Homo sapiens: one gene and its partner. The protein of the gene in region 1 interacts with the protein of each later gene in a biochemical or structural test. Each region holds a gene or a part of one and is shown on either strand. Other genes may lie near its edges.

Region 1 (7,028 bases):
CCTAAAGAACTTTTCGTTCTCTTTATTTTGAAATGTAGAATGCCTGTGAGCAAGACTGATGGATCTCCACACTCTGCCATCTCTCTACATCCAGTTGTTCTGGATCAATTCAGATGTTAACTTTCCCTCTTTTAGGCTACCTCCTATCCCCTGCCCGATGGCTGGCGAAGAGGTAGGTTGAGGGAGCTGGCAGACAATAAAGACAATGTTTGCTGAGCCTCTTGCTTCTCGCTCTGGAATCAAGCACCCACAAGACTGCTTTCAGCAGAAAGATGACAGCAAGCTTTGCTGCACTTTTGAATATCACTTAGACTAACAGAGGCCTATGTAGGCACCCTCCCACCTGAGGCCCACCAGGCTACTCACCTGCTAGGACTTCTGTCCGTTTAAACAGACTGTCTGAGTGTTTCTCAGTATACACATTTGTATCCTCTTCGGCTGGGTCCATTTTCCTTTCTGAGTCAGAGAGGTGAACTTTCTCTTTATCAGTTTCTTCAGGTGACTGGTATGGGAAACAGGGAAAGATTACATTGATTTAAGGAAATGTGTTGGAAAGAAGAAATAATAGATGAGTATATTCCAAAATTTTTTTTTCCCCCAAAGAATGAGTTTAGGAAATAACTGGAATAATCACTTGTGTGATGTTTATAGCAATGGGTGAGTGTCATGATGGACCCATGTAGTTCATGGTTTGCACAACACCCATCGCATGATCAGGCAAGTCGGAGAGCTAGTGAGTTCATAATAATCCTAAGGACATGGTGAGGTTGTTTTAGTGGACATTTCCTAAGATTTCTACTTTCTCACCACTCTTCTAACTGCAGGTCACCATCTCCCTCTGACTGCTCCAACCCAACAGCACTGCCCCAATTCTCCCTGCTCCTTCACTTCTGAACTACACAGGGCACTAGGACAACAGTTCCCTTTCAGATATTCTCTCACGCCTGACTGGGCTTTTCCTGTCCCCACTCTGTGGGGAGCAATCCCCAAGCCTTACTCCTAATGCTTCCCCCTAGTTATATTACCTTCAGCAAACCCTAGACCAGGACTTCCAGGGACTTGGATTGCGCAAGTAGCTCCTCCCTGATCACATCATACTTCTTTTCTCCACCTTGATTTCCTCACCTGTCTAATGAACGACACTCACTGGGTCTCGGACACTGCACAATGCTCAAGCAGAAATCTATGGGAATACCTCTCACAGCCGCATCTCTAGTCAGCATTATTCCCAACAAGCCAGCAGCCTGCAGGACATTAACTGTTGGCTGTACCACCTTTAACTCTACTCGTCAAGTCTAAGTAGTAATTAATTCACTGCTGAATCAGATCAACCTCCTTTTCTATTCCCATTAATGGCACTGTATTTTGGGGTGTTACCAAGTTATCTATTACGGCACATTTTCTATCATATGTTTTCCATGTCACAGCACTGTCAATTTGCCTCCCATCTTGCTCTCACATTAACTTCTTCCCTTGGGTTCTCATTTCCACAGCTTCGTTCAGGTGGCCAGCACATCACAGCCCAGCTCCCATCCCGCATCGACCTCAGAACTGCAGGTGTTGGGTAGCTTCCAGTCCTCACCCAACCCACCACTTACTCCCAGTAGAAAACCCTGTGAGGTCATTTCCACCACCTCTTCATTATCAAAAATGGTTCTTAGTATCTGTGCTGTAGTTTAGCGGTCCCCAATCTTTCCATGAATGGGAGGGTGGGGGGGATGGAGGGGGATGAAACTATTCCACCTCAGACTCTCATAAGGAGCACAACAGGCACAGTTCACAATCGCGTTTGCGCTCCTAGATCCTATGGGAATGGCACGCCTCCACTGATCTGACAGGAGGCGGAGCTCAGGTGGTAATGCTCACTCACTTCCTGCTGTGCAGCCTGGTTCCTAACAGGCCACCGCTACTGGTCCGTGGCCCCAGAAGCGGGTGGGGAACTCTGCTCTAGTTCATGCAGTTCTATCCCCAGTCCAAATGTTGCACTTCTTTTACTATCTGTTTGTCCTTAATGAAGCCTTCTCTGACCTTTTACCTCACTAAACCCCCAGGATTATTTACACAGAAATTATCTCTTGCCTTTCTAACTCTCAGCACCATCACTGGCCATCTTATGTGAATCACCCAAGGTTACGCTGATCCACATCACCTGAAAGGCATTAAAAAAAATACAGTCCTACTACTAGAGGTTCCATTTCAATTGGTCTGACTTCAGGTCACCATCTCCCTCTGACTGCTCCAACCCAACAGCACTGCCCCAGTTCTCCTTACTCCTTCACTTCTGAGCTATACAGGGCACTATGTAGCTGGCACTGACTTTTACTGCTATTTAAGTTCTCCAGACAATTCCATAGTTTAAGAACCAGTGGATTAGAGAAGTCCCATTCAAAGGAGTTGTTCATTCTCTAACAGTCTGAAGTTCTTGTCGGCCAGCATCACTGATGAAAACACTGTCAACTTCATTGAGGTTTAAAGGCTAAAGGTGGCTGGGTAGGGAGCCCAAGGTGAGAGGATCATTCGAGACCAACCTGGGCAACATACTGAGACCTTGTCTCTACAAAAAAATTTTTAAAATTAGCCAGGCATGGTGCTGTGTACCTGTGGAGGATCTCTTGATCCCAGGAGTTGGAGGCTGCGGTGAGCTATAATTGTGCCACTGCATTCTAGCCTGGGTAACAGAGTGAGACCCTGTCTCAAAAAAAATACTGCAGACAATAATCCTTCTCAGCTCTACTACTCTTCCTAAGTTCCTGAGAGCTTCCTACCATCTTCATTAGGACTCCACAGAGTCTAACATACCATGGCTCAGCAAAGCAAATGATTGCTTTCTGAAGGCTAGAGTTCATCCAAAATGGCGGCCTGCTAGTTAAGTCTAGAGGCTTAAAGAGTGTAAGAAGAAAAGACCTCACACCTTCTTGGGCTGTGCAAGTAGCTCCTGTGGGACCCTGACCACATCATACTTCTTTTCTGCACCTTAAGGCCACCCTCATTGCTAGGAAGGACCATAAGCTAGACCAGGTGGATCCATTTGTACTCTAGGGTATGTAAGATCAATAGGTCCCTGTCTCAGTGAGCAGAACGCTACACTTCTACTGAAGGTGGTATGTAATAAAGTATAATAAAGAGTAACTGTCATTCCCAAATTGCAAGAAACCCTGTACTACCTAAACTTCAACCTGCCATGACTTACAAAAAGCAGAGGCCATAGAGAAATTTCATTTCACTGGTGCACAATATGCACTGAAAATGTCACCGTCCTTTCTATTACTATGAGAGAAGGAAATACGACAGGCCTTCCCAGGCCTTCAGGTACCAAAGTAAAGCAGAAGAGAGCAGCTCATTGGCAGTATTTTTGCTGAGATTTTTCTATTCTTCTCATGAAAAGCCCATCATTAATTGGCTGCCTTGTGGAAAGACAGACAACAGGTCAGAGAATGGATTATCTGGGTTCTAGTCTAGAGACCTTTTCACTGCTCATTAGTACTGCTTTACTATTACAAGTTAGAAAAGGGAAGAGAAATCTCAAATAGGTGAATACTCAGGTTTGTGACTAGGGAGAGAGGTAAACAAGTTCTGGTGAGAAATGAAATGGACCTAAGTAGTTACTGTAATATGAGAGACTGAGTTTAATTCATCCATATCCATATCATCTTTGTCCCATTATTATTACAAATCATATGGTTTCACCATGTGATTGAGTCCCTAAAGTCATTTAAGAGAGTTGATCTTTTCAGTTTCCTCTGACTCAGCCTCTGATCCGGCAGGCTGAACAAAGCGTGCAATCCAGGGATCTGAGAGTGTGGGAACTGAAGGACTCCACAGAACTGGAGCCGCCCTGCAGCTGGAGGTGCACAAGCCTCAAGCGGCTCTGGGTGGAAAATTCATTTTTTAAGTCAAAATGTTTTATCGTATGGAAGCAAAGGCTTGACTAAGAAGATACCATTTGGTAATATGGAACTAATCTGAAATACCTTCACTCTTGTATGAATGTATGTGCAAAATGAATCCGCAAAAAGACAGCAGGGATGATTAAATGAGGCCAAGTAAAGATCTGCCACATCCATGTCTGGTTGTTTGGATGCCATGGAAATGCAACAGAAGTAAAAGCTTATGAGTGATGCTCTTCTCAAACAAATAACGAGATTCCCTTTTGTGCATTTTAGTCACTTAAATTTACAACAAACTAGATAGGATATCCGTAACAGTGACATTAATGCCACTGTGAGACCAATTGAAAAGCAAAATCTACACTAATGGTATCCTAGAGGCAATGTTCAATTCGGCTGTACCACATAAACAGCAAAATGAAAAATTTAATCATTATTATTCATGTTATTCATGATCAATATTATCATTATCAGTGCTGCAAACAGTGTTCGACACATAATGAATAGCACTCAACAAATCTCCTATAAATGGATGAATTTCTACTATTACTATATTGAACACAAATGATAGTAAGAATATAAATGTATTAAAATCTTTTGGGCTCCTTAATTTTTAAATTCACCTGCCAAAGTTCTACATTTTTTATCTCGATCTGATGCAATTACTTCCTTAAAACCAATTTTTAAAAACTTAAATTAGTGGTCAATCCATTGCTGTTAACAAACCAGACAGAACTCTATGTCAAATTAAGTCTTGCTTAGGATAGAACTCTCTATCACTACAAGCCAAAACTCACCCAGGAGAGTTGCTTCCCTCAAGCTAGTGAGTCCTAATTGTCTCTGACTTCAGCAGATTTAGTCAAGAGAAGTGGTCAAATAAAAATGTGGTAAGAGCCAAATGCATCTTTAGTAAATAGTAGCTAATTGTGCCACACACACTCTGAGGCAGTCATCGTACCACCAATTGCACCTGCACTTTTCATTTCTCCCTTTCTTTTTTTGTTTCATTCACTCAACTGAAACATTGATACAGTAGCTTTTATGCATGGATCCAGCACATGCCAGGTGAGTCGGTCTCAGTTCTCATAGGGCTCTCCCTGCCTTCCTACCGCCTGGCTTGTGAAGTCTACCACTAATAGTAATTGACCCTTCTTGGTCCTACAGAAAGCACTTCAATTTGGACAGGGCTGGCTTCCTGGCTGTTCCACATCTGCAGAAACCCATCCAGCGGTGCCATTCACCATTCCAGTCACAGGCACTGGGAGGATGGAGGAGGAGGAAGAACAAAGGTACTCTGGGGCAAGGGTAAGAAAAGCCCACATGCATTCTGGCCTGAAGACGGGATGATTCTTACTCCAAGGAAGGCCTGTCGCCACCTTCATCAAACAGCCTTCCATATCCATACCCTGTCTGCTGCTAAAGCTTGGCAGCATCTCATTTCTAATCAACAGATGGGTGAGCTCTAAAAGGGGATGCTTGTGCTTCTGAGTTTTCTTAAGCCATATGTTACCCCTGCACTGATTGCAAAGTCTACCACTACAGTTATTACACATGCTCATTTGGTGAATTGGCTTGGTCTCTTCTGCTCCACCAATTCAATTAATGCTTACAGAATGGTGACTAGGTCTCAGGTGCCATGCTACATGCACTCACATTTCATCTTCTTCAAGGCCCATAGGAAATGGGTTCAGAAGCTAAGAAACCTGACTGGATCCAGGATTTGAAACTTAGGTCTTTGCCAGACTTTAATATGCATGTTCTAACTTCAGTGGGTTACCTATTAGTGGATGGTCAGCTAACTGCAATATTAACGAGGTCAAAATCACAAGCTCCAAGTTTTCATTAGCTGGTCACTTTACTCAGGTCTAAGGCCAAAGACCTTATTCTTAATAAGTCAGCTCTCAAAATGAATATATACAGATGTACCCAGGTTCATCATCATCGAGAGAGGTCAAGGATTACATAGTACTGATGGTCGGCCTAGGAAGACTGAGAAATGACTTAGTGAGACTAGGACCACCTCAAGACGTGACCTGGAGTCTTCTAATTACGTAACCTACAAACCAGGAAACCAAAGAAACAGGGCTTTACTTCTTAACTGGGCTTCAGACGTTCCTTAAGAAGGAGGGCCATGTGAAAAATAGTTGTATATAATTTGAGCCTGGATGACAGAGATTATAAGTGGGTAAATGCCAAAATGATCAAAAAGAGTAAGGAAGAGCCATTTATAACACCACCTGAAGACCATTTGTCCTTACACAATTTTAAGTGGGGTCTTTTAAAAGAACTGTTGTGTACATAGTTCATGATGGGTAGCTCCAAAAAGAAGAAAATAATACAAAAGGGACTGTTGTGTACAGTCAGTAAAGTGAAGCATTTGTAATAACCTGATAATGCAATGCAATGGAAAATAGAACGCACCTTTGTCTGAGCAGGTATCTTGTTCTGTATATTCAGCGTCGTGGTTTCCACTTTTGGAGCAGCACTAGTCAACAGTATCTTTGGAAGTGGTCGAGATGTTGTCAGCTCTGGACTCTCTACATCCTCATCAGCTCCTGGAAAAGTAAGTGAAGATGAACTGAGCATGGCAATCATGACACAGATGTCTCCATTATCAGGCACTATTGCCTGACGTTGACACTGACAGAATCATGTTCTTTCAAAATGCTGGCTCTTTAAGACTTCAGCACAAAGCTTCCTGTGGTCTTCACCATGATGAAGAAGTGATTTCAAAGGTGTCTGTGGGTAGTCTAGCAAGTTTTTCCTTAATAGTATTATCCTGAACATTCAAGTAGCCCTTCTTTCACTTGCATGTTCCTTTTCTCCCTGCTTGACAAGATTTTTTCCCATCTACACTGAAACGTGCTCCATTTCCATTTTAAGAACACAACAGTCCAGGTGCAGGGGCTCACGCCTGTAATTTCAGCACTTTGGGAGGCCGAGGAGAGCGGATCACGAGGTCAGGAGATCGAGACCAGCCTGGCCTATATGGTGAAACCTCATCTCTACTAAAAATTCAAAAATTTAGCTGGGCGTGGCGGCGCACGCCTGTAATCCCAGCTACTCGGGAGGCTGAGGCAGGAGAATCACTTGAACCTGGAGGTGGAGGTTGCAGTGAGCAGAGGTCACACCATTGCATTC
Region 2 (7,028 bases), about 38 Mb from region 1:
TTCATTTTCATAGCAGAATAATATTCCATTGTATGTATACCACATTATATTTATGCTGTCATCAGCTGATGACATTTGGGTTATTTGCACTTTTGGCTATTATAAATAATGCTGTTAAAAATGCCAATGAGCATTTGCATTGTTAGCAAATAATATGTAAGTTTATATACTTTTTTAATAAATGCATCTTTAATTCTCTTGGAATATAGCTAAGCATGCAACTGCTGGGTCATATGGTAACTCTAATACCATCCCCTTGATGATTACAGGATTCAACATATGAATGGAGGGACACAGTCACAAACATTCAGACCATATCATAGACCACTATCATATATGATTTACAAATACTTTTCTTATTCTGTAGATTGTCTTTTCATTTTTTCTCACAGTGCATTTTGCAATATGAGGTTTTTAATTCTGACAAATTTGAATCTATATTTCTTCTTGGTTGCTTATGCTTTAGATATAACATCTAAGAAACTACTGCCCAACTCAAGGTTATGAAGACTTACCCTTATGTTTTCTTCAAAAAATGTTATGTCTTTAATTCCTGCATTTATATCTTTGATCTATTTTATGTTAATTTTGTACACGGTGTGTGGTATAGATCCATATTCATTATTATCCATGTGGAAACCCAGTTATTTCAGCACCATTTTTTGAAAATAACATTTTTGAATTGTCTTCGCATCGTTATTGAAAAGTGATCATAACTGTATGCACTTATTTCTGCAATCTCAATTCTATTTCACTGATCTATATGTCTATCCTTATACCAGTACCACACATTCTTGAGTACTGTACATTTGTATTAAGTTTTAAAATCAGTTAATGTGAATCCTCCCACTTTGTTCTTTTTCGAAATTGTTTTGGCTATTCTAAATCCCTATCAATTCAGTATCAGTTTTAGAATCAGTATATCCATTTCTGTAAAAAAATAAAAAGTATCCTTAAATCTGAAGTGAGTCTCTTATAAACTGGGTATAGCTGGCTCTTGGTTTTATTTTTTTAATCCATTCATCCCCTCTATGTCTTTTGATTGGAGAGTTTAGTACATTTAAAGTTATTACTGATAGGGAAGGACTTACAATGACATTTTGTTAATGATTTTCTATCTTGAAACTTTTTTGTCCTTCCTTTCCTCTCTTGCCATCATGCTTTTTGTTTCACTGTTTTTTTTTTTAATAGATATGCTTTGATTCCTTATTTGTGTGTGTGTATTTTCTATAGGTATTTTCTTTGTGGTTACCATGGAGTTTACATAAAACATCTTCTAATAAACCTATTTTAAGCTGATAATTTCAACTGCATACAATACTGCTTCTTCTCATCCATCCCCATACTGCATTACTGATGCTACAAATTTCATCTTTTATGTTGTGCATCTATTAATATTTTTATAGTTACAGGCACTTAAACTTTTGTCTTAGACTTATATATCAGAAATAAGTGATTTACTCACCACCATTACAATAATATGCAGGTCTCTATTTGTCCATAGCTTTATCATTTAATTTTATACTTTCATGTTGAACATACTTTTGTTTCCATTTAACAGACTCCCATTGGCGTTTAAGTCAGATATAGTGGTGATGAACTCTCTCAGATTTTGAGAATCTTATTTCTCTTTTACTTTTAAAGAAAAGTTTTGCCACATACAGTACTTTGCTGGCAGTTTTTCTTCCAGCAGTTTGACTATATCATCCCACTTCTTTCTGACCTGCAAGGTTTCTGCTAAGAAATCCACTTAGAGTCCCACAGAATCTCCTTTGTATATGACAAGTTGTTCTTATCCTGCTGCTTTCAAAATTCTTTGACAATTTGATTACAGTGTGTTTCCATGTAGATGTCTTCGGATTGTTCTACTCTGGAGTCCATTTGGCTTCTTGAATCTGGATGTCCACTGCCTTCCTTCAGTTTGGGAAGTTTTGGCCAGTATTTCTTCAAATAAGCTTTTTGCTCCTTTCTCTTTCCAACATATGGAACTTCCATACAATCTACATTGATAAAATTGATGCTGTCCCATTAGTACTCTAGGCTGTCTTCATTCTTTTTTTATTTTTTTTCTTTTTGCTTCTCTGACTGGATAATTTCAAATGACCTGGCTTCAAGTTCACTAATTCTTCTCCTTGAAAAACACTGCTGCTAAACTCCTCTAGTAAATCTTTCAATTTGGTCAAAGAAGCATATTGCATCTGTTACAATGTTTGTTTGGTTCCTTTTTACGTTTTCAATCTCTATGTTGATACCATTTTGTTCATGCAGCATTTTCCTTGGGTCACTGAACATGTTTATGGTGGTTAGTCTGAATTCCTTCTGAGATAATGAAGATATCTGTGTTTCCTTAAAGTAGGTTCCTGGATATTTTGACTCTTTGATTGTGCCATGTTTCCCTATTTCTTTGTGTGTCTTTTAACATCATGTTGGGATCCAAGCATTTGAAAAAATATCACCCCTCCCAGTCTTTGTGGTCTGGCTCTGTACAGAGAAAGATCCTCACTGATCGGCCTGACTAGAGATTCTGCATGCCTTTTGAACCTTTCCTGAGGATGCTTCTTCTCGACCAGTGTGTATAAATTCTCAAGATGAACTTGTTCGTTTCCTTTTTCAGGATCTCATAATCTTTTGCTCCCTGTGCTATCTGTCTGTGGTACTTCAGGTTCTCTGGAGCTGCTGCAAGCCACCCAGCTCTCTTGTTTTCAGAGGCCTCCAACCTGGTGCCCTTTCCCATCAGTGGGCTTTTAGAGTATGTCCACTCCTGCCTGTGCTCCAAGTCAGGTGAAACAGAAGCCAGTCCCTTGGGGGTAGCTCTCTGAAGTGCTGGAATGTTGGACACATACTCCACTATTCTCTCTCCAACACCTTTCATGCCACACGTAGGGACAAGCTGCTGAGCTGTATCATCCTCTGTCTGCCCTACCATAGGTCCTCTAGAGCAGCAACAAGTCTTCTGTTCTCAGTGGCTCCTGGGCACCTGGAATACACCAGCCCCTGTCAGCTTTCCAAGACAAGCAAGACAGAAGCCAGTCCCTCAGCCCACTGAAAAGGTGAAACACTGGACACACATTCCAACTCTTTTGTCTCCCCAAGGAGAAGCCAAGAGTTGAGGATTTTCTCCTGCTGGTTTCATGCTGAGGGAGGGGGAGGGACCATGGTGAGTGCCTGCTAATCTAAACTGTCAACTTTGTTTTCAATGACCCCGCAACCTGGTGCCCTTTCCTGTCAGAACTTATATTCAAGCAAAATAAAAACCAGACCCTTGGGCAGACCTCTGAAAAATCTGAATGTCACACAGATGTTTCAGTCTTCTCTTTCCCCGCCCAGGGAAAAACCAGGAGCCTGGAGTTTCCTCTTGCTCATGCCATGCTGAGCCAGGGGAATGAACTATGGTGAGCAAGTAGGATGAATTTTCCTACCATCTTCACTGCAGCTGGTTTACTGCTCACCTAGAATGCAGGAGCCTCTTAACTAGTTTCCGGATTTCTCACAAAGAGGTCTGGTGTGTGTATTGTTATTGAATCAGTATTTCTGTGGGGAGAAGAAGCATATGAGCTTTCTATTGCACCTTCTTGCTGCTATTACACATCTTTTGTTTCTTTTCTAATTTCTCTGGCTATAATCTCCAGTACAATGGTGAATAGTAGTGGCCTGGTACAGTCCTTAAGGGAAAAACAGAATCTGGGTTTGTGAGAAAAAAAAAAAAATTCACATTCTTGAGAGAGCACTATCAAATATGATTTAATTGTATTAATCCAGGAGAACAAAGTGAATTATCTTCTTTGGGTTCAAAGGATCAATTTCCTAGCAGCCTTTCCCTAAACACAATTTTTTGCCTTATTTAAACTTTCAGCCATTCTATCAATATAAACAAAATGCATATGATATATAATATACAAAATGCAAAGCAAGTTGCAATATCAACAACCAAAATGCACTGAAAAGAATGTTACCTGGCCATCTAATATTATTTCTATTTTTGATTTCTTTTTTTGATTCTGTCATTGGCTAACTTCAAAATCCCACTGTTCTCATGAAAAATGAAGTGGTTTCCTAACTTTTCTCTCCATAGAAGTTTCTCTTCAAATAAATATTAACTGAAGTTGTCTGAACAACTCTTGAGTTAATTCACACACCAGCAACTCAAGCCTAGAAGAAAAATGGACTTTCAAAATTTTTTTTAAATAACAAATATTACCGTAATTTACACTTCTGAAAAAGTAAGTTTCAGGTTTGCTTTAAGTGTACTGATCTTAATTAACTCTCACTGTTTTTTAAATCACAAAGCATTCCTCAATTTTACTTTCTTGACCCATTTCATTAAATTTCTTTCCACGTATTAAAATGTTGTAGCTGCAAACCACTGACTATTTGCCACCCAGGTCACATGCTTCCATGCCTGCATATTTTTGTAAAAGGTGCATTCTCTTCCAGGAATGTCCTTCCAGGACTTCTCCACCAATCAAAATCCTAGTTAGCCTTGAGGCATAGGTCAAGTGTCACTTCTTAAAAGAGGGTGACTTTGAAGGCTTCAGTTGGATATTATTTGCTCCTCCCAACTCCTCTCAACTCTGCCTCAGATTATAGCTAGTACATGTTTATCTCCACTACTTGAAGGCAGGACTCAATTTAGTTTATTTACACAGCATAAACACTTTTTCCTCATCCTCAAAGATATCAAATGTAGCTGGGCGCAGTGCCTGTAATCCCAACAGTTTGGGAGAAAAAGGTAGGTGGATCACTTGAGCCCAGGAGTTTGCGACCAGCTTGGGCAACATGGAGAAACCCCATCTCTACAAAAAATATAAAAAACTAGCCAGGGACAGCAGCACATGCCTGTAGTCCTAGCTACTTGGGAGGCTGAGGTAGGAGGACCACTTGAGCAAAGGAGGTTGAGGCTGCAGTGAGCTGTGGTCACACCACCACATTCTAACCTGGGTGGACAGACTGAGACCCTGTCTCACCAATAAAAAAAACTTTTTAAAAAGAAGATACCAAATGTTAGTATTTTGACAAATGTCATCAAAACAACAGTAAATAAGATATCTTTAAACACTTATTGAAAAGATCAAAATATTCTTAGGGCAAGTCCGTACTTTTGAACCTAACAGTGTAAAAAGCCTTCCAGGAAAATGATAAATGCTTTATTTTTCTGAAGGGCTCCATTAAGTCACTTGTACATTATATTTAAATCTTTGACCTAATGGGAACTGTTAGAAACACAGCCCTTTTTCAAGAACCACAAAGCTAACTCTGGGAAATCCTTCTAATTGTGGCTGGAATTTTATAATGACCAATAATGAGGTTTAAGAGGATTCTGAAAGTAACTATTACATCAGTGGAAGAATCTCATTTTACCTCACTTGCAACTCTTATCAAACATTATTATTGTACGAACTAAACTAAAGAATTTTGTTTCTAGGCTTTCCTTCGAGCTGAGTAATCACTAAGAAGATAAAACTCCCACTACTCTTTAAGGGTTTGATCAAACCTTCCTGACCACTACAGCTTTTTTCCACTGGCCTAATTCCTTGGAAAGAAATGGTACTGCCCACATACCCTTTGACCAGGTTTGGCCCACACTACATTATTTGCAATCTCTGTGACTCACTTCATGCATTATGAAAGGCCCCTACACCCAATGTATCTCAGGCCTCAGAAGTAACTCACAAATAGTTTCTATTAAGAGATCTTTCAGTGGGTGGGATAGTTTCGGACTTTTTCAGAACACCAAAAGGCTATATATATATTATATATGTGTGTGTGTGCATATGTATTATATATAACATATATAATATGTATTATATAATATGTATTATATGTATTATATATAATATATATTATATTACATTATATTATTATATTTTAAATATAAATATTTTTATATTTATATATTTTTATATATCTATATATTTTATATATTTATATTTATATATTTTATATTTATATATAATTAAATATAAATATCTAAATATAAATATTTTAAATATAAATATTTAAATATAAATATTGATTAAAATTAATATCATTTTCCTGGAATATATAAATAATATAATATTAATATATAATAATACTATATTATATTATAATATACATTATAATTATATATTATAATATTGTATATAATATATACTATATTGTATATAATAGTATAATATATAATATATGGTATAAATTATACTATACTATACTATATAATATAGTATATAATAAGTATATCTTATATACTTATAATATAGTATATAAGATATAGTATAATAGTATGATATACAATATATATTATGTTATATATAATATATAAATCATTATATATTATTCATAAATAATATATATTATATATAATTAGAATATATTATAATACGTATTATACGTATTATAATATATATGTATTATATATGTTATATATAATACATACATTTTATATATATATGTATTTATATATTGTCTGCCTCAGTACCAAGTTTCCCATTTGTCCCTCAACCCCCTCAGGGCAATATAAGAGTAACCTCCTTGAAGTCTTTAAATATGTGTACAGAACGAAGGCCCTCAACTTAAATACTTATGTGATATTTTGGAATTCTAGTTTATTCGCTCTCTGGACACAATATTCTGATTAATGAAGTAGGAAACACTGGCAAAGTTTTCCAAATAATATCACCTAGAATGGCAATACTCATCATTTTCTGAGTTATTAACCTCACCCCTTCTCAAACCACCAACTACAACTGGCCTCCCTTAAAAATGACATGTGACTGTTTAAGGTGAAATAATGTTTATTTGCTTCTTTTAATCTAAGCTATTAAAACAGGAGTTCCCAACCCCCGGGCCATGGACCAGTACCAGTCGGTGGCCCATTGGGAACCAGGCCACCCACAGCAGGTGAGTGGCAGGTGAGCCAGCATTACCACCTGAGCTCCAGCTCCTGTCAGATCAGTGGCAGCATTAGATTCTCACAGGAGCAGGAACCCTATTGTGAATTGTGCATGCAAGGGATCTAGGTTAAACGCTCCTCGTGATATAGTTTCATC

What was found. The genes of interacting proteins can lie anywhere in the genome.
Region 2: the proteins of SDC2 (region 1) and SDCBP form a complex in vitro, tested with the Homo sapiens proteins (3 studies listed by BioGRID and IntAct, with this or other methods).

What each region holds. Positions count from the first base shown.
Region 1 is NC_000008.11:96,601,809-96,608,836, reverse strand, and holds part of SDC2 (syndecan-2 precursor), read right to left. Parts: intron 6,443-7,028; coding exon 6,309-6,442; intron 503-6,308; coding exon 367-502; intron 1-366. UniProt on the Homo sapiens protein: Cell surface proteoglycan which regulates dendritic arbor morphogenesis.
Region 2 is NC_000008.11:58,556,233-58,563,260, reverse strand, and holds part of SDCBP (syntenin-1), read right to left. Parts: intron 2,978-7,028; exon of another isoform or gene 1,514-2,977; coding exon of another isoform or gene 1,466-1,513; intron 1-1,465. UniProt on the Homo sapiens protein: Multifunctional adapter protein involved in diverse array of functions including trafficking of transmembrane proteins, neuro and immunomodulation, exosome biogenesis, and tumorigenesis.